3 linked regions of the Homo sapiens genome follow. The protein of the gene in region 3 interacts with the protein of the main gene of each other region in a biochemical or structural test. Each region holds a gene or a part of one and is shown on either strand. Other genes may lie near its edges. The genes, in order: PLCB2, PLCB1 and TRPM7.

The links.
Region 1: the proteins of TRPM7 (region 3) and PLCB2 form a complex in vitro, tested with the Homo sapiens proteins (one study listed by BioGRID).
Region 2: the proteins of TRPM7 (region 3) and PLCB1 form a complex in vitro, tested with the Homo sapiens proteins (one study listed by BioGRID).

What each region holds. Positions count from the first base shown.
Region 1 is NC_000015.10:40,304,932-40,312,348, reverse strand, and holds the start of PLCB2 (1-phosphatidylinositol 4,5-bisphosphate phosphodiesterase beta-2), read left to right. Parts: upstream 1-4,413; 5' UTR 4,414-4,676; coding exon 4,677-4,760; intron 4,761-7,417. UniProt on the Homo sapiens protein: The production of the second messenger molecules diacylglycerol (DAG) and inositol 1,4,5-trisphosphate (IP3) is mediated by activated phosphatidylinositol-specific phospholipase C enzymes.
Region 2 is NC_000020.11:8,128,147-8,135,281, reverse strand, and holds the start of PLCB1 (1-phosphatidylinositol 4,5-bisphosphate phosphodiesterase beta-1), read right to left. Parts: upstream 3,017-7,135; 5' UTR 2,631-3,016; coding exon 2,532-2,630; intron 1-2,531.
Region 3 is NC_000015.10:50,585,772-50,592,879, forward strand, and holds part of TRPM7 (transient receptor potential cation channel subfamily M member 7), read right to left. Parts: intron 6,856-7,108; coding exon 6,140-6,855; intron 3,886-6,139; coding exon 3,821-3,885; intron 718-3,820; coding exon 621-717; intron 1-620. UniProt on the Homo sapiens protein: Bifunctional protein that combines an ion channel with an intrinsic kinase domain, enabling it to modulate cellular functions either by conducting ions through the pore or by phosphorylating downstream proteins via its kinase domain.

The sequences.
Region 1 (7,417 bases), about 10 Mb from region 3:
TCATCAAAAAACAACCAACTCAGCCAGCTTTATTTACAAAACAAGGAAATAAAGGCTTAACTTCTAAAAAAAAAAAAAAAGGTTGGACCAGGACAGGAGTAAGAACAGAAGCAATTGATCAATACTGATGACCTTCCCTATATGCAATGCACCGTGCCCACCTAGAGGAGGACATCATATAATTTATTTCTATCACACTTATTAAAACTGGCCCATTTCACAGAGGGATTGACAGAGGCAGAGGAGTGATTGTGCCCAAGAATGTCACACTGGGATGAGAGCTAAGCCTCTCCTGCCACCTACAGCTCTCATCTCTAGGTTTGTTGTCTCTCAGAGGAAAGGCAAGAGAGAAAAGTGACAAGATTGGCCCTTCCAAGTGGAAAGAGATTTTTAGAGCTGGAAGGATTCTTAGAAATGATCAAAAGTTTGACAGATTCAAGGGCTCAGGTAACTTGCTAAGATCACAGAACAAACCTTTGCTCCAGTGGGGACTAAACTCTGGGTTTCTTGAAGATGGACACAGGTAAATTTGATCCAAAATAGCACTTCAAAGAGAAACATACATGGACTGATTGTTTTCCACTTTTTTTTTTTTGAGATGGAGTCTCGTTCTGTCACCCAGGCTGGAGGCAATGGTGTGAACTTGGCTCACTGCAACCTCTGCCTCCCAGTTCCAGCTATTCTCCTGCCTTAGCCACCTGAGTAATTGGGATTACAGGTGTGTGCCACCATGTCTGGCTCATTTTTGTATTTTTGGTAGAGACGGGGTTTCACCATGATGGTCAGGCTGATCTTGAGCTCCTGACTTCGTGACCCACCCGCCTCGGCCTCCCAAAGTGCTGGGATTACAGGCGTGAGCCACCATGCCCAGTTTGTTTTCCACTTCTAAGTCCCAGATGGTTCCTTGTCGGGTTATAGAGGGGCTTGGAATGGGAAGACAAGCAACATCTTCCTCCTGGGCATCTACAGGAAACTTGATTGCCTCTCTCCTCCCTAAGGGATCAGTGTTGGCTACCCAGCCTTGCCCATGCCTCCACTTCTGCTTAGCTCTCAGTACACAGAGGGTGGCTGAAGCTGGGGCCACAGAGGGACACACAGCTGGGCAGCTCAGCACTCTCATCTGTGCCTCATCAGCTGGGGGGCTGTGGTGGCATGAAGCTGGTGGGAGGCTGGCACTTGCCCATGATTGGAGCCCTTGTGCTCATCACTTCATGAGTTCAGGCCGCTTGGGAACAGCTTGCTTCAAGTCCACAGACAGGAGCAACCCTAACTCAGTCTGCCCTGCAAAGGTGGGTACAGCCCCTGATCCACACGAACTGCTGGAAGAAAAATCCAAAGAGAAAGTCAGTGAAGACGTTTGTAGAAAGAACTGTTGAAGAAGGAATAAGAAACTGCCATTTTTCCTGTCAGTGTCTGCTAATAAGTAATAATAAAATAACAATGATAACTCATAATGATAATGATAGTATTATTGAGCTCATGTGTAGGCACTGTATTAAGTACCATTCATTATATTCTTTAATCCTTGCAACATCCCCATGAGGCATTATTATCCCCATTTTACAGGTGAGAAGGCTGAGGCCCAAGAAGGTTAAGTATCACAAGATAAACCAGCTAGTAAGTGGCTGGGTTCCTAGAGTGGTGAGTGTGGCTCCCTTTGCCAGACTGGGAAACAGACACCATAAGAGCCATCTTCCCTCCAAAAGAGGGCCAGCCCTTGACCAAGATGGACAACAGGGTTCCACACTCCTGAAACCCACTGCTTCAACCATCATGGCATCAGATAAGAAACCGACCTAGTCTGATCCTCTTATTTGGCTGGCAGCTGTGGCACCTGAAGGTCTGAGTTCAACTTCTGCCATTAAACTTCTCTGATGAGCAAACTGGGAAACCAATGCATGGGGCTCCCACATAGCACTGGCAAGTGAACAAATGAACTTGGGACATATGTGCTGGGGTCCAGGTCACAAGCATGTCCCTTGTGGGAGGCAACATTTGGTTGAATATAAGTTCTTACCACATTCTATGGCCCAAGGCTCCCACTTGCCAAACTCTCTGGCATAGGTGTTCCCGTGGGTCACAAATGACAGACCCAACCGCAACTTCCAGGACATGCATGCTTTGAGTGCACCCAGCAGGGGGCATCCTTGCCCTTCCACTGCCCACCCTGGAGGGGTGAGACTGGCCCACTGCAGGGTTGCCCTCTACCCAGCTCAGCCCAGGAGCCCAAGGCCACATTTCCCAAACGGGGCATTCATGTAACTACCCTGATTTTCTCTACTATTATTTACATAACATTTTTCTTTGTCAACACAAATTTTCAAACCTAAATGTATTTTTAAAAGCAAAAAGCTCTTTGATGAAGATTTTCCGCTCTCCTGACTGCCTGGATTTTCTGCATTTTTGGAGCTAGCTTTGCAGGAGGTCAGGATGTGAGCAGGAGAGTACAGGCCCCCACTGAAGCTACAGTTGTGGTCCCAAGAACAGTGCAGGCAGTGACATCACTGAGTAAAGATGGGCAAGGCTTTGTTCTGTGGATTCGGAGCTGGAGATGGAAAGGAACAGAGTGAGGAGCCCTGAAATCCTGAAATGAGGAGAGGAGGCTGTCCCTTTCCTCCTCAGGCTGAGGGGGAGGAATGGACTGGTCTCTCCAGGCCCAAAGTGGAGAGGGGGCTGATGGCTACAGGACAGATGAAAGGGAGGGACTTGGGTGCCGGGACCAGGGCAGCCGCAGGTGACAGGTGCAGGGGCTTTGGGAAGGGACAGGGATTTCCCTTGCAAAATCCATTCAAACAGATATCGAGGGAACCTGATCCCAGGGAGGAACCCAGAACAGCATGGGCTGCCAGAGGGGCCCCCAGAAGGGCCCCAGACTGGAGGGAGGGAGAGAGGAGAGATGACGCTAAGGGACTGGGGGAAACGAGGAAGAAGAGTCCTCTGAATTGTTACCATTTCCAGAGGCTTGGTCAGGCCCTGCTCCGGCTCCATCCCCCGGCCCTAGAATTGCTCTTCTGCAGATTATTTCTGTGCTGGGAATTCCCTTAGCTCCAGCCTCCACTGGGCAGTTTATTATCTTAATTCCGCATGAAGAGTGTCCTCCCTCACCCTCCACCCTGCCCTGGACCAGACCTCCAGCCGCGACAATTCTAGGGCCTGGGTGAGGGTCTTACCGTTGTTGGGGGTATGCAAAGCCCCATGGGGGGGTGACCCAGGGCAAAAGGCCAGGCCCCAGAGGGGAAGGAAGTCTTGGGTAGAGCTCCCTGCCTCCCAGGCTGGGCTAAGAAGGGCGATAAGAGGAGCAGATTAGGCAAGAGGAAGTGGGCTGGGCTGAGCTGGACTGGTGCTGAACTCCCTGGGCCTGGGGCAGAGTGTGGGTCAGGCACCTGAGCAGCTGGGGCTGAGCCTGGCCAACCAGAGCAGCCATCCCTCCGCCCCAGCCCCGCTGCAGGCTGGGGTACACAGCAGAGGCGGGCACACGGAGGAGAGAGGAGAGCGCAGTGGAGGCAGGGGCTAGGGCTGCTCAGTGGGGGTCCAGGCCTCAGGCAGTCCCAGAGGCCCAGAGGTGGGAGTCTGGTGAGGTGGGTGAGGGGAGTGATTGCCTTGCCTCATGTGCCCCTCATTTTCTTTCTTTTTTTATTTTTTTCGAGATGGAGTCTTGCTCTGTCGCCCAGGCTGGAGTGCAGTGGCGCCATCTCGGCTCATTGCAAGCTCCGCCTCCTGGGTTCATGCCATTCTCCTGCCTCAGCCTCCCGAGTAGCTGGGACTACAGGCGCCGCTGCCACGCCCAGCTAATTTTTTGCATTTTTAGTAGAGACAGGGTTTCACCGTGTTAGCCAGGATGGTCTCGATCTCCTGACCTCGTGATCCGCCCGCCTCGGCCTCCCAAAGTGCTAGGATTACAGGCGTGAGCCACCGCACCCGCCCGCCCGGCAGGTGCACCTCATTTTCATGGGGGAGGAAGCATTGAGAAAGAGGAGCCGTGTGTTCAGCAAACTTTGCTTATTCAAAACACTCCATTCCAGCTGGGCCCTGTCCCCACCCCACCCCTGCCTCTACGGTGCTCCCAACCTTTGGGGTCAGATGCCCATGCTCTGGACCCTTCCCCTGAGGAGGTCCTTTCTCCTAGTGAGCTCCCTGTGCCTTCCCTCAGTCCAGGCCTGGGCAGCAGTCTCCCCAGCTGGTCTCCATGTCGTCCTTCTCCAGCCCTCCTGGGCCAAATCTGACCAGAGACCACCACAGGGACTGAGAGGCCCTGGCTCCAAGGCGACCCGGCCTCATGACCACGTCTCCGCTGTGAGCAGCGCAGAGAAGGAAGCCCAGAGCAGGAAGTGCTGAGAGGCACAGGGTGGGGCTGGGGGTGGGGGCGGGGGCCTCCAGAAGAGGCGGGGGCTTCCTGCTTCAGCCTCCTTGGGCAGAAGCAGTGACCACAGGCCCCCATGGCAGGCAGGGCGGGTGGGAGGAGGGTGATTTACAAGGCAGATGGGCCTCTGGCTACAGCTCAGTCCTGCACTCAGCCAGGGCCACCCCAGGGGCTATAAGAGCAACTAGATTTCTGGAGCAGCTCGGGGATGGGTGCCATTTGAGCCCAGCTTGGCTCCCCCTCCTGGCTGGCCTCCTTCCTGCCCTTCTGCCTGCCTGTGTCTGCTGAGATTCTGCAAAGAGGAACGCTTGGCACCATGTCTCTGCTCAACCCTGTCCTGCTGCCCCCCAAGGTGAAGGCCTATCTGAGCCAAGGGGAGCGCTTCATCAAATGGGATGATGTAAGTGGGGCAGGGGCCTCAGCTGCTGGAGCACCAGGTGGTGGGGGCCGGGCTGCTACGGGGCTTTGCTTGGGTGGGAGGATTGGTTTATGTCTCCTAGGATCCAGGCGCCTGTGTGGTTTGGCCAGGCAGCTGACACCACTGCTTGGATAAACAAACCTGGGATTAAGGGTGTATGTCCCCAGCTAAAGGGCTAAGCCTTGGTTCTAGGTGTGAGAAGTGGGTGAGCTGCCTGGGTGGTCACTGGAGGTAGTTTATTTGGGTCTGCTTCTCTTCTCCTTCAAACCCCCAAGAGAAGAGGAGGAAAGTGCACCCCAGAGCTGAGGCAGGCTAGGAGGAGAGGTGAGCTCGTCCCCGCTCCCAGCACAGATGTCTTGCCCTTGCTCCGGCAGGGCGCTCAGACCCAGCTCCTTCACCCCCTCCACTGGGCATCATCCTGTCCAGGGAAGCCTTGCTCTCCCCTGCGCTGCTGTGGGGGCAGCCACAAAAGGCCCCTGGACCTAAGTGAGAACTAGAGGCTTCTGCTCCCAGGGAAGGAGCTGATTTGACTTCTGCTACCCCTTGCTGGGCTCAGCATTGCTCCCCGATGCAGGCCTGTCAGCAAGGGAAGGGGAAGACACTGCTGCACCCTGCAGCCCTCTCTCTGCTGTGTCTGTTCCTTCCTACACGGGGCTGCTCCCAGGCTCTGGTTCTCCTGGCCCCTGAAAATGTTACCTTAGGCCAGGGATTCTCTTAGGCTGGAGAGAACAATATGGAGATTCTCCTTCAGGGAGGGGAGGCTGCTGGGCTCGCCCAGTCTGAGAGTTAGAGTGCTGGGCTTGTCCCAGGAAGGGAAATGAAGGCTTGGTGGGGGAGGGAAGACAGCCCTTAGTGCTGACTTGTCCACCTGATGGGAGGTGGGATGAGGGGGTCTGGGTCTAGGCCCTTCGGGGCTGGGCTAGGCTAGGGGATCTCGCTGCCCATGACTATGGGTTGGGGCCCTGTGGTGAGATGCTTCCTGCTTCCCTAGGAGTGATGTGGGGTTGGTGTAGCATGGCAGTGGCATGGAGGTGACATGCCCCAGGAGCCTGTGGAATGAGGGAAGTGGCTCAGAATGAAAAGCGAAGTGGCCTCTCTCAGTTCCTCTGGGCAGTGTGTGTAACCTGACTGGGCAGAGGGTCACAGGGTGGCAGTGGAGGTCGGGGGTTGGTGGCCAGCGGAGACTGTCCTTCTTCCTAAGCTGGCACCTGTGTACCTGGCTGTTCCCTTCCCCTCTCCAAGGTAGGGCATTGGATGTTCTCTGGATCCTGACCTGCACAAGCAAGAATGTCCCAAGCCTATCCACAGGTCCATGCTGCTGTGAGACAGGGCTCTGCTTTCAGGCTGCTTTTGGCACAGTTAGTGGATGGCATGGGTGTGCTGTGCCATGTTGAATAAGCAGAATACATAGGATGTAAGCAAATCCCAACTTTATTTCATCTCCCATGGCCTCTTTACAATATATTTGGTAGGAGAAGCTCTCCCCCTGGCCATGGAAAGAAACTCTGCAAGGCCACAAGACATTATATTTACTCTCAGGTAACACAGTCCAGTGGTCACTTTTCATCACAAAATCCAGTCCGATGTCAGAAACTGGCTATAATCAAAACTCCAACCTTTATTTACACTGACATCTTCTACCCTTCTCCTTCTAGGAATGGTTTCAGGTAGGCTGCAGGCCCCCTGGAAAGGGCCTTGGTGGGATTCCCTGCTGGTCCTGCTCAAGGCCCCTCTAGGCATGAGCTATAGGGAGGGAGGTGGGAAAGGGGTAACCAAGTTCTATTTAAACAGGTGCTGTCATAAATTGGCTCATGCTTTCTGAGCCTGGCAGAAGCTTAAAGCTGATTCTTTCTCTGGAGGACATTTTTGAGGATTCTTGGGAGACCCACCCCTTCGAATGGGAACCTGTTGCTTGAAGTCCCCCCAGCATTTCTATTTTAGGGGTCACTCACAACTATGTCTTCAGCCCCTTCTTACCACCTTCAGCTTCCTGTGGCTTTAGGCCCTTTGCCCCCACTCTCCCATGGGCCCACCCTGGACCCCAGCAAATACCCATGCATCCATTGTCCCAAGGGTGCAGGCTTGTCCAACAGGCCAGCACCCCCTGCTCTGCCTCACACAGTTAGCTCGCTGTAGTCCACTTGGTCTCCTGGGCAGGAGTCCGACCTCTGTCTGTTATGCCTACAACTTCAAGGATCACAGGGGCCTGTTGTGGGGTGGGGGGAAAGGGGAGGGAGAGCATTAGGACAAATACCTAATGCATGCGAGGCTTAAAACCTAGATGACAGGTTGACAGGTGCAGCAAACCACCATGGCACATGTATACTATGTAACAAACCCACACATTCTGCACATGTATCCCAGAACTTAAGGTAAAAAAAAAAAAAAAAAAAAAGAGATCACAAAAGCTCTCTAAGTAGAGTTGAAACCCCTCACTAGGCTTAAGGTGGGGGATCAGGCACTCCAACTCTCCCTTGGGGAGGTAAGGGAATGGAGCTCCCAACACAGCTTTCTTAAAATTGGCTTCTCCACAAAAATTTTCCCTTTTCCCTGTACTCTAACCACCTCTGATCTGAGAACATTTTTTGGATCATTCACCTTGTAAATGCTGCATTTGGTCTGTTTTAGTATACGGCAAC
Region 2 (7,135 bases), on a different chromosome or scaffold from region 3:
TTTTTGAATGTCCTGTAACATTACCACGCTTTTACACAAGAAGCAGCAAAAATACAGAGAAGCTAAGTGATTTGCCTAAAGTCATGCAGCTTACTGGTGAAAGAACTAGGAGGTAAACTCAGGCCTTTGATTCAAGATCTGGTTCTTTTTTGTCTTCAACACACTGTCTCACTAAGGTACAATATAAATAGCCAGATAACTTGAACTGGCTTGATTCTGGAAGGGCAAATACGAGCTGAGAAGAGTAGAAAAGGGATGCCTGGGGAAGAGAAAGGCAACCTTAAGAAAGGCTGGGTCCCTTGTAGTCCACTGATCAGCATGAAGACCCAGAGAACCAAAGAGCCTGCAAGATAGCTCATTATATTCCAGATAACTTGACTCCTGAGTGCAGTCTAGGTTTTTTTTTTTTTTTTAAAAAAGACCTGAAATTCTTCTGGTCTTCTCCTTAGTGACTATGTCCTTTCTTTCAGGAGGGCTTCCTTGGAAACTCACTGCTGCAATGCTCAGAAGGAGCTCTTTTCAACTTCTTCTTTGGTTGGTATTTCACTAACGTCCTCTCTATTACCCTCAATGCATCACCCAATCTCTCTCTCATTGGTGTTTTTGATGATTTTTGTCTCCTCCACCTAGCATGTAAGGTCCGTAACAGCAGGGATTTTGTCTACTTTTTTCACCACCCCAGAATCCAGTCTAGGATTGGCAGTAATAGGTGAGCAAGAAATATGTGTTACAGAAATGCACATAATGAAAGTCATCTACCTGGATATACCAAAATGTGTTTTCATAGAATACTTTCATTCTCAATGTGATGTTGGCTATTCTCTCCCAAACAAGAAATTATAGAGAATTATTTAAAATACAGTTTAGAATCATCACTGTATACAAATCCAGAGCTTACGCTGAAACTCCCTTTTCTAAATTCTGCAAAGTCTCTTTCTCTTTCCTCTGCCCTTCACTCTCTTTCTCAGTAAATCCATCATCACATCACCTCTCTATTCAAGGATCTCAAAATGGGCAAGACCGTCTTGTTTATTGCTGAACTGCATTTTCTTTGTCTTTTTTTTCCCTGACACAAAGCATTTAATCTGCGTCTGAATTTATTGTTTAGATTCTATTCCATTTACAGAAACATTCAGTACAATTAGACTGGAACAGAAAGAAGAAAAGTGTGAAGCCCATGGTAAAAAGATGTATGTTTACATCCTTGCCTACAGCATTTAATAATTGGCACGAGCTTTCAAGGAAGCTGTGGTTCATACTCCAAGTTCCGTTTGCGCTTCCAGCTGGACAAAATATAGACACAGACGCACTCAGCTAAGTAATTGGATTCACTACCTGGAATATTTAAATTGTTTTCAGACACTGGAAAATGGCTTAAGAAGATTAAAGAAAAATACCCTAGAGGATAACAGGCTATAATTTACTAGGTGGAAAATCTTTTCGGCAAGAAGAACGCCTCATTCTCCTATAATTCCTTCTGATTAAGAGATGTATTAGTCATTTGGACTTAAATTTGCTTAGAGCCTGGCAACTCGGGTTTATTTCAGTAGGTTTTTCTTATCGAACCTTTAGAATGACACCCAGGACATAAAACTGATACCATAATGTTCTCCATCCGAAGATTCGCATGTTTTCAGCTGGATAACTAATTTACGTGTTTTGAAGACAACTGGGGTAGAGGGGAAGGGGAAGTCATTTGAAGTCCTGGGGTCTGGGCCGCTCGTAAAGCATTAGAGACCCCGGCGCTGGGCTAGGCTCTGCCCTACCTGGCAAACGGTGCAGGTAAATCGTGGGGCAAACTCTCAACCTGTCTATTTCAGGCAGAAGACTCCAATCAGCTCAGTTCTCAAAAGTCAGCCCTCCCCACTTGCCTGCAGGCCCATGAGCCCTCCAGGACCCCTCAAGGGCCCCCATTCTGTTCACGCCCTCCCCAGATGTGTCCCCGCAGCCCTTTTCAGGGACCCTCACTCCGGAGCCAGGCGCTGAAGTTTGGCATCAACGACCACCTGTTGGCTGGACCGTTGTGTCCTCCGCCGCCTTGGCTCCCACAAAAGCGCCAAGAGGGTTCGCAATCACTAAAGTGTTTTGAACTTCAGGTCCTTCCTTCTTGAAATCGGGCAAAAGAGGTAATAGGGGGTGCGTCCGCAGGCGGAGAGGGACGCGATTTGTTCACACCAGGCGCTTTCCAGTTGGTCCCAACTTCACACTCCCTACTTTCCGAACTCTCAGGACCTGTCACCAGGCAAAGCTTGCCCCTCCCTCTCCACTGGCCCAAAAGATGTAAGACCCTCAGGGGGCGCCTGCCAGACCCAGAAAGGATGGCAACTACTGAAGCCCGATGAAACAGGAGCGCGCGCAAAGCTTCTGCCCTTGGACATCCGCTTTGGCAGATGCCAACCTGTGCGCCCGAGGCTGCCCCTGCCCGCTCCCAGTGCGCCCATTGCATAACGCGCCCCTTGCCCCACCCCCACGACGCCCGCCCTGCCCGGTGCCCGAGCCAGCGCCCCGACTCGGGCCGCCCCAATACTTACATCATCCCACTTGACGAATTTGGTGCCCTTCTTGAGGCTGTCGGACACGCACACGGGCTTGAGTTGCAAGGCGTGCACTCCGGGTTGAGCCCCGGCCATCTGGGCTCATCTGGGCTCCGGGCGGCCCGGGCGAGCGCGGCAGGGACTGGGGACCGTGCGCGGGGCGCGGGGCGCGGGGCGCGGGCTCCTTTCTCTGCTCCGGAGGCGCTCGACTCTGCTCCCCGCCGGCCTCCCCGGCCTCCCGGCCTCCGCACCTCCCTCCGGCGCCGCTCAGCAGGCAGAGCGCGCGGGGGCGCAGCGCCCGGCCATGCCCCGGGCGGGACGCGAGGTCTGGAGCCCGCGGTGGATGAGGAGCCTCGGAAGGCGAAGAGAAGCCGAGCCGGTCAGCCGAGGCTGCCAGTCGCGGCGGATTCTGCTCCTCCGCCGCCGCCGCCTCAAAGCGCACCATTCAGCACATCCTCTATACACAGAGGGAGAGAGCGAGTGACACACGCCCGGCGCCCCCCCTAACCGCTCTTTTCCCTCCTCCCTCCTCCTCCCCCCCGCCCCCCTTCCCCGCCACCCTCGCTCGCTGGGTCCTTCCTTCCCCCCGCGGCTCCCAGCCCAACTTTGCACGCTGGGTCAGGCGCCAGGAAGCGGGGACGCAGCGGCACCTCCTGGCTCCCGAGCCCCATTGCAGCCAACGCCTGCCTCCCGCATTCGCTCTGAGCATGCCCCGTGCCCTGGTTGCAGAGGTGCTAGGGGTCCCCAGGAGCCTTACGCTCTTTGGGGTTTTCTTGGGAATTTGGGCTCGAGCTCCGGAGCGTCTTTGGATCCCAACTGGCTGGGAAAAGGGGCCCATCGGGAGGAACCAAAGAGGCAACCCCTGGCTTTTGGCTCTAGCTGGAGCTCTCCAGCGCCAGCCACAAACCAGCTTTTTGAAGAGAATTATCATTTATCAGCAGAGAAGAGCGCAGTTGAGAGGCTCTTTGAGGAAACCTGGCCGCGCCTGAGAGTTTGCAGCGCGCTGATCTTGAAACCCGGGCAAACGGTTACGTTGTGCTTTCGAGACAGAAAGCCCATCCTAAAGAAAGCAAAGGTTTTATTTTCCGAGGAAGAAAGAGGGTGCCCTCTCCCGCTCCTCTCCTTGAGTGTGTAGGATGTGTGGCGGGTGGGGGAGAGTCTTATTAATAGAAACTTGCTCATTTAGGAACATAGGTCCAGGAATGTTTGTCTTCACTCCTTCCACAAACATTTCTCAATTCAAGAAAGAAAGGGAGGGAGGGAGGGAAGAAGGGAAAGAGGAGGACCAGAATGGATAAAATTTTAAAGACTGGTAATACCAAATGCTTGAAAGGATGTGGAGCAACTGGAACTCTTTTTTTTTTTTTATTAAGGAGAGAGAGGAGAGGGAGAGAGAGAGTGAGTGAGTGTGAGAGAGAGAAAGAGAGAGAGAGAGAGACACACGCGGGAGGTGGGGGGGCGGAGAGAGAAATAGCTTGGAACTCTTGTTCATTGCTGGAGGGAATATAAAATAGTAAAACCACTTTGGAGAATAGTTTCTTATAAAGTAAGATATTTACTTATCATACAACCTAGAAATTCCACTCCTAAGTATTTGTCCAAAAGAAATGAAAACGTTCAAGTCTGCAGGGACTTGTAAAGTGATGTGAAGAACTTTCTTCTTAGTAGCCTGCAAATGTCAATCAACAGGTGAATGGATAAACAAACTGTGGTATGCCCAAATATTGGAATACTATTCCACAATAAAAATGAGTGGGCATGCAAGATCAGGGATGAATCGCGACTTTAAGCTTTGTAAAAGAAGCCGGACACGATAGACTGTATGCTGCCTGATTCCATGTGTAGGAATTGCAGAATAGGCAAGATATTCTATGTTGACAGAAAGCTTGCCTGTGGCCAGGGATAGGTAGAGATGGACAGGGAAGGGCTACGAGCACCTGATGAGCATGTCGGAAATGTTCTATATCGTGTGTGTGTTTATCAAAACTTGTAAGTTCTGTAAGTACGCCTAAATTGAGTGCAGTTTGTTTTAAATAAATTATATCTCAAAAAGGTTGATTTTTAAAAAGAAGAAAGAATACGAAGAGAGAAAAATGGAGAGAAACACTACATTCTCTTAATCCTTCATTCTCCCTGTTCTCTGCCCTCAGGACTCCAAGGCCCAATGCTTATGAACTCAGTCAAAAGATTACCAAAATCCAATACAGAAATTTGCTATTAAATATTTCAATGCATTTAAAATATACTTATTGGTAGCCAGCTGTATACTAGCCACTATTGTAATCACCATGGATAACCTGGTGAACAAGACCCATGACTCTTGCTGTCATTTGAGGGTCTTGCCTTGTGCTTGGAAGCCAATTGCTACAAAGAATTTCATGAAAAACTGACTGGTTTCATTTTGATCACATGTCCCTAAACTAAAACCTGAATGGTCCACAGTCCCTCTAGCCAGCAGCCTTGGCTTGCTAATTACCTCACAGAAGGTATCAGTCACCGTCTCAAGTCGATTTTCTCTACTTCAGAGTACTGCAATGAAACTCTGCTTCCAGGGCTCCAGAACTTCTCAATTGTCCTTACAACTGATCATACCAAATTGTTTTCCTTTCCTTTCCTTTCCTTTCCTTTCCTCCTTTCCTTTCCTTTCTTTTCCTTTTCTCCTTCTATCTCTTTGTTATTTACTGGAAAGATTATTGGCCAAATAGTTTTTACCTGTCACAGTGGCTTAGGAAGGCAAGACAGGGCTGCGCTCACTAGAAGAGGAGATTGGAGAGTTACAATGAGCTCTAAGCAAAATAAGAAGTAGATTGAGCCTCCTGTGGTAGTTTATTGCATCATAGCTCTCTGCTCCCTGCTCCTTTCTGCGTCCACACATTTTTCTTTGTGACCTTACAGTTTTTACTAGACACCCTGTTTATTTATCCATCCCATTGATGTTGGACAATGTGACTTGCTTTGGCCAATGGCATGTTTGAAGATGTGATATTAGCAAAGGCTCAAAATATGCTTTGAGGTTGGGCTTTCCCTCTTGGGTTTCTTATCATTTCCATGAGATAAACATGCCTCAGGGAGCCTCTGATCTAAGGAGACAATCAGGACAGACCTAAGCCCCATTTACAGCTTGGAAGCAAGTCCAGTAGAAACCATCCTAGATCTCCCAGACTCAGCCAACCTGCAGACTCATGAACATGACAATAAACGTTCATTGTTGAATGGCACTGAGTTGGGAGTCATTTGGTAACCACCATTATTGGCAATGGATAGTTGAGTATTTCATCTAGCATCCCTGATTCCTCCCAGCTGTTGCTGTGAACGTGGACGTAAAAAGGAGAGAACGCTGTAGAAATCTGAACAGGATTTGTCTTCAAGACAAACATGGGCTGCAAGAGTTTCTTCAGCCAGCAAAATGACGCAGTTTGTTAAAGGAGAACTACAGGATAAATACCTTCAACATGTAGCATGATGCTTGAAGCAGCATGGTTTAACTCCCTCATTTTCCACACCTTTTGTTCAGTATACAAGATAGAAATGTTTCTAAAGTGTGGAGTTTTTTTGTTTTTTTCCCATTCTTTTTTTTAAATTATTATTATTATACTTTAAGTTTTAGGGTACGTGTGCACAACGTTCAGGTTAGTTACATATGTATACACGTGCCATGTTGTTGTGCTGCACCCATTAACTCATCATTTAGCATTAGGTATATCTCCTAATGCTATCCCTCCCCCGTCCCCCCACCCCACAACAGTTCCCGGTGTGTGATGTTCCCCTTCCTGTGTCCAAGTGTGGAGATTTTTGCTATGCAAAGGGATCTGTAAGAAATCCAAAATTGTGTGAGCCAGGCCTGTGATCCGTCAAGTTCGGTGCTGTGTACTGTTTTTTGAAACAATAGGAAGGTCTGTTTTTTGTGAGAGCACAGAATTGCCCTCTGGGAATGTCAGCCTCAGGGAGCTGGCAAAGCTAACCTTTATTGAGCACTCACTGTGGGTCAGAGCACTAAGCTAAGCACTTCCCAGACACTAAAAAACATAACCCTTCCTATTCAACACCACTCTCCACCCTCTTTTTCTTGTAAGCAAACCCTGACTTAATTTGGGTGGTCGTCATGCTTAGGAAACATGGCCCCTCTCTCTTTCCAAGGAACAAACTATGATTGGCCTAAACTAATGTCAATAATTCCATTCCCCTTTGTCTGTAACTGGTTTAAGAGCTATATGAGGGGCTCAGTTCTGACTAATGTCTTCAGGGAAATTCTCTTTCTCTGTCTCATATTGTTATGTAAAGAGGACACTGACAAGAAAGATGCAAAGAAACCTGGTCCTTCATGAGCTTTTTAAACCCTTTAAATTTTCTTTAGACTTTTTAATGAGTGAGATAATAAATCTCTTTATTATTTAAGCTTTATTGTTACTCTCAGCTGATCTGGTAGATAATATTATTGTATGCTATTTTACTGATTTATATACTAAAGTTTGGAGGATGGATTAACCTCCTCCAGTTACAAAATTCGGAATTGAGATGGAGACCTAGGAAGTCTGACTTTAGAACCTAGACTCTTAACTACCATGGTAGATACTTCTACAACTTATAAGGCAGATATGAGT
Region 3 (7,108 bases):
TTTCAACGATGTGCATATATAATCTTGACTTATAAAAAATTATGATATGGAAACATCACCACAATATAGTAAATGAGAAATTAATGGTACAAGGCAACATGTATTGTCTGTGACCTTTTGTGTAAAAAATGAGAGGTATAAGATTGTACTGTCATACATGACTGTATAAGCATGAAACTCTAAAGGGTAGACAAATAGTGGTAAATGTGGGAACAGAGTGAGAGAGAAAATTTTCAGAGTGTGTGTATTTTAATTTTGAACCAAAAATGTATGATTTTTAAAAGTTAAACTAGAAAAATATGTTGAATAAGTGATGATACAGATTAAAACATGATACAGATGAACAGATACATTTGCAAAAGCTAAAAGCAGCAGATTTACAAAAAGTTTTTCTATTCCATCTTTACAGAATAAACAATTTGTAAAACATATTCTAATAAAACATTCTAATGAATGCTAGGATTACGACTTATTCAAGGTTACAGTCACTATGGCAGATCAGAATTTTCGTCTTCTGACTCCTGCACCATTCACTGCTCATGTGTTTGACAAACATAAAATACATTTAAAGTGTAAATGAGTATGTTTTCTGACACTATTCATATGGTCAAAATACTCACCTTGTTTTGAATGAACAGGAATGGAAGTTCTGTGACAGTCAGTAAATCCAGCAAGAGAACTCACTCGTTTCAAAGTGTTTTCAGAAGTATTGTTATTCTGCAAATATTGTGCAGACATATAATTTGAAAATAATTGAACTAAATTTCAACCCATTACTCTAAGTAGTATTAGAGTCCCTTGATCTATTTAGCTCAATATGCTTTATTCTACCTGGACACCAATGGGTGTATTATAGATTATGGTTATTTTCTTCAATGCCAATTTCAAAAGCTGCACCAAAACACCTTATTTTCCTACTGTTCATAAATCCATCCAAATGAATTTTTTATAATAATAAAAACTCAGACTGGGCATGGTGACTCACACCTGTAATCCCAGCACTTTGGGAGGTCGAGGCGGGCGGATCATGATGTCAAGAGATCGAGACCATCTTGGCCAACATGGTGAAACCCCATCTCTACTAAAAATACAAAATCAGCTGGTTGTGGTGGCGCATGCCTGTAGTCCCAGCTACTCAGGAGGCTGAGGCAGGAGAATCACTTGAACCCGGGAGGCGTAGGGTGCAGTGAGCCAAGATCAAGCCACTGCACTCCAGCCTGCTGGCAGAACGAGACTCCGTCTCAAGAAAAAAACAAAAACAAAAGAAAACAAAAAACCTCACAAAAAAGTTGGAAAAATATACAAAACTGTGGAGAAAAAACGCAATCATTATGAATTCACCTCACCCCCAAAGAAGCTATTATCTTACATGTATCTTGACACACTGATAACATTAATGGTGGGGGAACTATTTCCTTTTGGGGATCTTGGTAACTTTCTTATTGCTTTGTATGAGCTATTTATACAACAAGGTTATCTATATGCTCACTATTTTGTCAGATTTCAATTTGTATTTCAAATTTCTTTTGACTATGTTTTTTAGGTACTTAAATCTCTACATTTTCCCTTAATATTTTTCTATTATTTATGTGTTTGGAAAGCCCTGAAGGCTTTACTGGCTCAATAAATACTGCTTTTTTTTTTTTTTTTTTTGAGATGGAGTCTTGCTCCATCTCAAAAAAAAAGTTGTTTAAATCAAAACACAGCTACTGCTTTTCTGCTAACTCACAGAAACTTGCAATGTCTTGTTTTTATCAAGGAGTACCTGCCACTTAAAAATTTTCAGCACGTTTTTTCTTTAAGTTCATTATTAAAAAGGTGAAATCTGTGGGAAAACTCTGATGCTTTACCTTTTCCCATTAAGAAATGTCCATTTATCCTAAATTTTATGTCTTACTTCTATCAAGTGCTTCGCAATAGCAAAATGATACCACCAGAGTGTGGCAATATGACAATAATTTGTGTAAAGAAAAAGAAAATGTGATGAACTTAGGTTTAAATAATTCTACATTATAAACAGCTTTACTAAAACTTATGAAAGTCCATAAAACATTTCATTTACCTATAAAATCTACTTCAACCCTATATGGAATACAGATATTCCATATGTCATATGGCAATAATTATAAAACCAATTTGGTAGACAGCAGTCTGTTCTTTCTTCTTTCTAGCACTTTTTCTCATTCCCGCTTTTCTTCTTTCTCTTTTTATCGTGTGTCAGCTAAGGCTACCTAAGTGAACTTGATCCATTTATTTAGCTCTCAGTCTAAATATGCCATAATTAAAATGGTTAGAAAACACTGCAAATTATAGTCTTATGATAGGTCCGCTGAACCTACACCTATTTCCTCCATCTAAAAGCACATGGGTATATTTTAAGCTGACTTTCTGACTTCTGCATATACTAAAGAGACTTTACCTCATATTTAGGCATCTCTGTATACTCCATAATCACATTTCTTACATCATTCTGCTGCTCCTATTTGAGGTAAGAAAATTATGCAACTATTCTCAAACTTAAAGGCAAATACAGAAAGGAAAAAACCCAGGTAATCATTACACCTCAATTTGCATATAATAACCAATTAAATACCAAGTTATCAATATCTAGTTAATAGATATTAAATTAAGTTAATTGATTTAGTACAATACTTTAATCAAAATATGATAATAAAAATACAAAATGTTACAATATAAAAATGCATTTGAGTCTACTTTTTATATGTAGGGTAGTAAGTAATATGGCCTGACAGCAATTACATAATTCACCTGGATCACATAAAAAGTAATCATTCATAGAAACTCCTACGTCATTATCATTTCCTTGGTTCTAGCTTTAGGAAAGGTCCTGTTTTCACTGTGTATGTCACTTAACATTTCTATAATGTAAGTTCTTTAAGGGCTAGAGAAGCTTAACACCTTTCTAGGTGTTTTTAATTATCTTGTTGTAGCCACATTACCACTCCAAAGGCTCTAAATAGCCACAAGTAATATATGAGAGCAACATTTAAGAAATAAAACCAACTTTGCAGGCAAGAATACACCTTTTTTGCCAGCTGTTCTACATATTTTGAAACTTATTTAACAAACATTTATCAAATTATCTTGCACTTGTACATAATATACAGCTTCTCACTGCTAGACAATAGGTTTCTAAGAGTCAGGGTCATGTTCAAATAAAACTTTTGGATCTGGGAAGAGTGAGCTCATTAAGTATTTAATCAGTGGAAAACATATGGGGAGAAGAAATTTTTAAAAAAGAAATGTAGGCCGGGCACAGTGGCTCACGCCTATAATCCCAGCACCTTGGGAAGCCGAGGCAGGCGGATCGCTTGAGGTCAGGAATTTGAGGCCAGCCTGGACAACATGGTAAAACCTCATCTCTACTAAAAATACAGAAATTAGCCAGGCATGGTGATGCGCACCTGTAATCCCAGCTACTCAAGAGGCTGAGGCAGGAGAATCACTTGAACCCGGGAGGTGGAGGTTGCAGTAAGCGGAGATCACACCACTGTACTCCAGCCCAGGTGACAGCGAGACTCCGTCTCAAAAAAAAAAAAAAAAAAAAAAGAGAGAAATGTTAAATAGCTGATGTTTTTTATTTAGTGAGTATAATTACGCAAGCTGTTTGTACCTTTTCATGTTCCTCAATTGTTCATTTTTTCAAACTGAGGACAGCTTCAAATATTTGGTATCAGCATGTTAATGATATCTGCTAAAACTGTATTTTTGCTGAAAAAATGTTTAATTAAATTTTGAACTAAACATCAAGACAGTAAAATAAATAGAACTGTGGGTGTTTTAATAAGGATTTACTTACGGATAGTATTTTTATCTTGTTTGATGTTTCTTTAAACCTCTGTAAATCCATGCTATCTCTGTGTCCTTTAATAGAAAAAAAGATGTTGCAATGAGAAATTTTTATTTTTCTTCACCGAAATAATGGCACTGCTTAAAGTTTATAAAAACAATAGGTTTATGCTGTTTTTCAAGTACACTTGATGGCTCTGCAGTCTCCTTTAGCTCTTTTGATAAATAAAATTGAAAATTGCCAAGAAGCTGGTGAAGGTTACAGTTTTTTTTGTTTTTTGTTTTTTTAAATTTGAGAACAAGTCTCGTTCTGTTGCCCAGGCTGGAGTGCAGTGGTGTGACCTTGGCTCACTTCAACCTCTGCCTCCCGGGTTCAAGCAATTCTCCTGCCTCAGCCTCCTGAGTAGCTGGGACTACAGGCACGTGCCACCATGCCTGACTAATTTTTGTATTTTTAGTAGAGACAGGGTTTCACCATGTTAGCCAGGCTGGTCTTGAACTCCTGAACTCAAGATCTGCCTGTCTTGGCCTCCCAAAGTGCTGGGATTACAGGCCTGAGCCACCGCACCTGGCCAAGATTATAGTTAAGTTTACAGTAACGTTAAAAGCCAAAGTCCTTATAAAACAAACCAACATGTGATATGAATAAATAGCTCGAAATTTAAAAGAAAAAAGGGGACCAAGCATTTTTACTATTAATAAAAAAAAAAGCATTACATATATACGGATAATCACTCAAAAAGGAATGATTTATTCTTATGCCTATAACTTAAACAAAAACAGAACAAAAATATTTTGGCAATAACACTTTAATGACCTTAATGAAAACTGTTCCACACATAGAGATTGTTCAGACAACATGTTAATAAGCCCATGTATAATCTCCACATTAAGACCAGTCTAGCAAGTTATTCAGGCACTGAACATGCTGATACTTACTGCTAGGCTATATGGAATTCACTCTAGATATACAGATATGTAACTTTTCCTATATAATATACATGTAGAGAAAATATATATGATATATACATACACCCCACTGGTAATACATTAACAAATAGGCTAAAATGCATTTTTAAAAATAAATTGGAAATTAGCCAGGTGTGGTGGCGTGTGCCTGTAATCTCAGCTACTCAGGAGGCTGAGGCAGGAGAATCACTTGAATCTGGGAGGCAGAGGTTGCAGCGAGCCGAGATTGTGCCACTGCACTCCCGCCTGGGCGACAGAGGGAGACTCCGTCTTTTAAAAAAAAAAAAAAAAGGGGGAATATATTTAACGTAGGAAAAGTTATATCTATGTATCTAGAGTGAATCCCATATAGCCTAGAAGTAATATCAACATGTTTAGTGCCTAGATAACTTCCTAGGCTGGCCTTAATGTGGCAATTTTCCATGGGCTTATTAACATACTGTCTGAATAATCTCTATGCATGAAAGTTTTCACTAAGGTCTTTAATGTGTTACTGCCAAAATAAACATTTTTTTTTGTTCTTATCTTATTTAAGCTATCATAGGTATAAGAATAAGTCATTCCTTTTTGAAATGTTCTCTGTGAATATATAAATAGGTACACCATAAGTACTAATTTTCCCAGTAGATTCCTAGATTTCCATTGTTGTTCTGATATAATTATTAATAGTGCACCCTTTCACTTTTAAAGTGTCTTGGTTTGGGTAAAAAAATTATATGGTCATCTATTTATAGGGCACTGTTCTTTTCCAGTTGATTCTAACCTCCCCTATGAGGTTCTCCAAGTACTTAAGAATCACTTAGGTTTTCAACAAGAGTTGATGAAACCCAATTGAAGATATTCAAATTCAAAAGACAGAACCTAAAATTCCATCAAAGAGGTTATGTGCCAATATAACTCTTATAGCCTAATTCAGTCTATTTCCCCTACTTCTGATTTTTTTTTTTTTTTCATTTCATTTCTAGAGACAGGGTCTCATTCTGTCACACAGGCTATGGTGCAGTTGTGTGATCACAGCCCACTGCAGCTTTCAGCTTCTGGGTGCAAGCAGTTCGCCTGCCTCAGCCTCCTGAGTAGCTGGGACTTCAGGCACATGCCACTGCGCCTGGCTACTTCCAAAAATTTTTTGTAGAGATGGGGTCTTGCTATGTTGCTCAGGCTGGTCCTCAACTCCTGGGCTCAAGCAATCCTCCCCACTCAGCCTCCCAAAGTACCAGAATCACAGGTGTCTGATTCTTTTTAAAAATTTTATAATTATACTCTATGAAAAGATAATGACTTGTAACAGTACATATTTCTATTATTTCTAAGGTGAAAAGTAAATAATATTGATATACAAATACGAATTTGCCAAACTTACCTACAAATGCTCCAAATTCTGTATTATCTCCTTCTGTAGCTTTAGAGCAAACAGTTTCTTGATCTTTGGTTCCAGTTTCCAAGTGGCTTTTGCAACTTGGCTGAGATGGTGTACTAACAAAAAATTTGGTTGGTGGGGATGACAGATGTGGTATGCTAGTAGATGAACTGCCTAATTTTTGATTTTTATTAAATATTTTTAAGAGTTCTACCCCATGTAGTCTCTGTCGCAGTTCTGGAGGGGAAACAGCACTTGGGAATAAGGCACCAGAAGAGGAACCAGCCTCTGGAAAATTAAATTCTTTTCTCTGGGGTACTGCAGGTAAGTCTTGACCAAATATATTACACTGGGGATCTTTGTCATCTTTCATTAAAATATTACAATGAAAAGGATTATTACTTTCAAGATCACCTTGAGGAAGAGAGGAGCTAAGTGTATTTACAACACCATGCTTTTTCCATACAGAAGGTCTTACAGGACCATCATCAATAAGGTTTTGAGCCAAGTGTTTGGAAATGCTCAGTTCTCGTGTGATTTCATTATGAACTTTGCTAGCTTCCGACGCTTTCTGGGCAGTGAGTGTTTTTAATGTATCTACCGTCAGGGCTGAAAGATCTTGCAAATGGCCAATTTGAGAATCTAATGATTGTAATGATCTTTTTATGTAGTTGACACGATCTCCAACTTCTTTAATCTGAATGCACATCTGTTCCACTCTGTAGGAGAGAAATAAGCTTTTTTTACAAATGTGAAAAAATAATGTAGAATTTTATTTTGTAGCCTCAAATAATAATGATAAAAAGAGAAAAATTTCACATGCATTTAAACAAGATATAAAATAAGGTACAGTTATTTAATTATACAAGGCCTACCTTATGTTTAAGAAGGATCCAGTGCTAATCTTATATTAAAATGCAAGATTTCAAAAAACGTTTTTGTTCCACAGGCTACTTATTCCAATTACCCCAC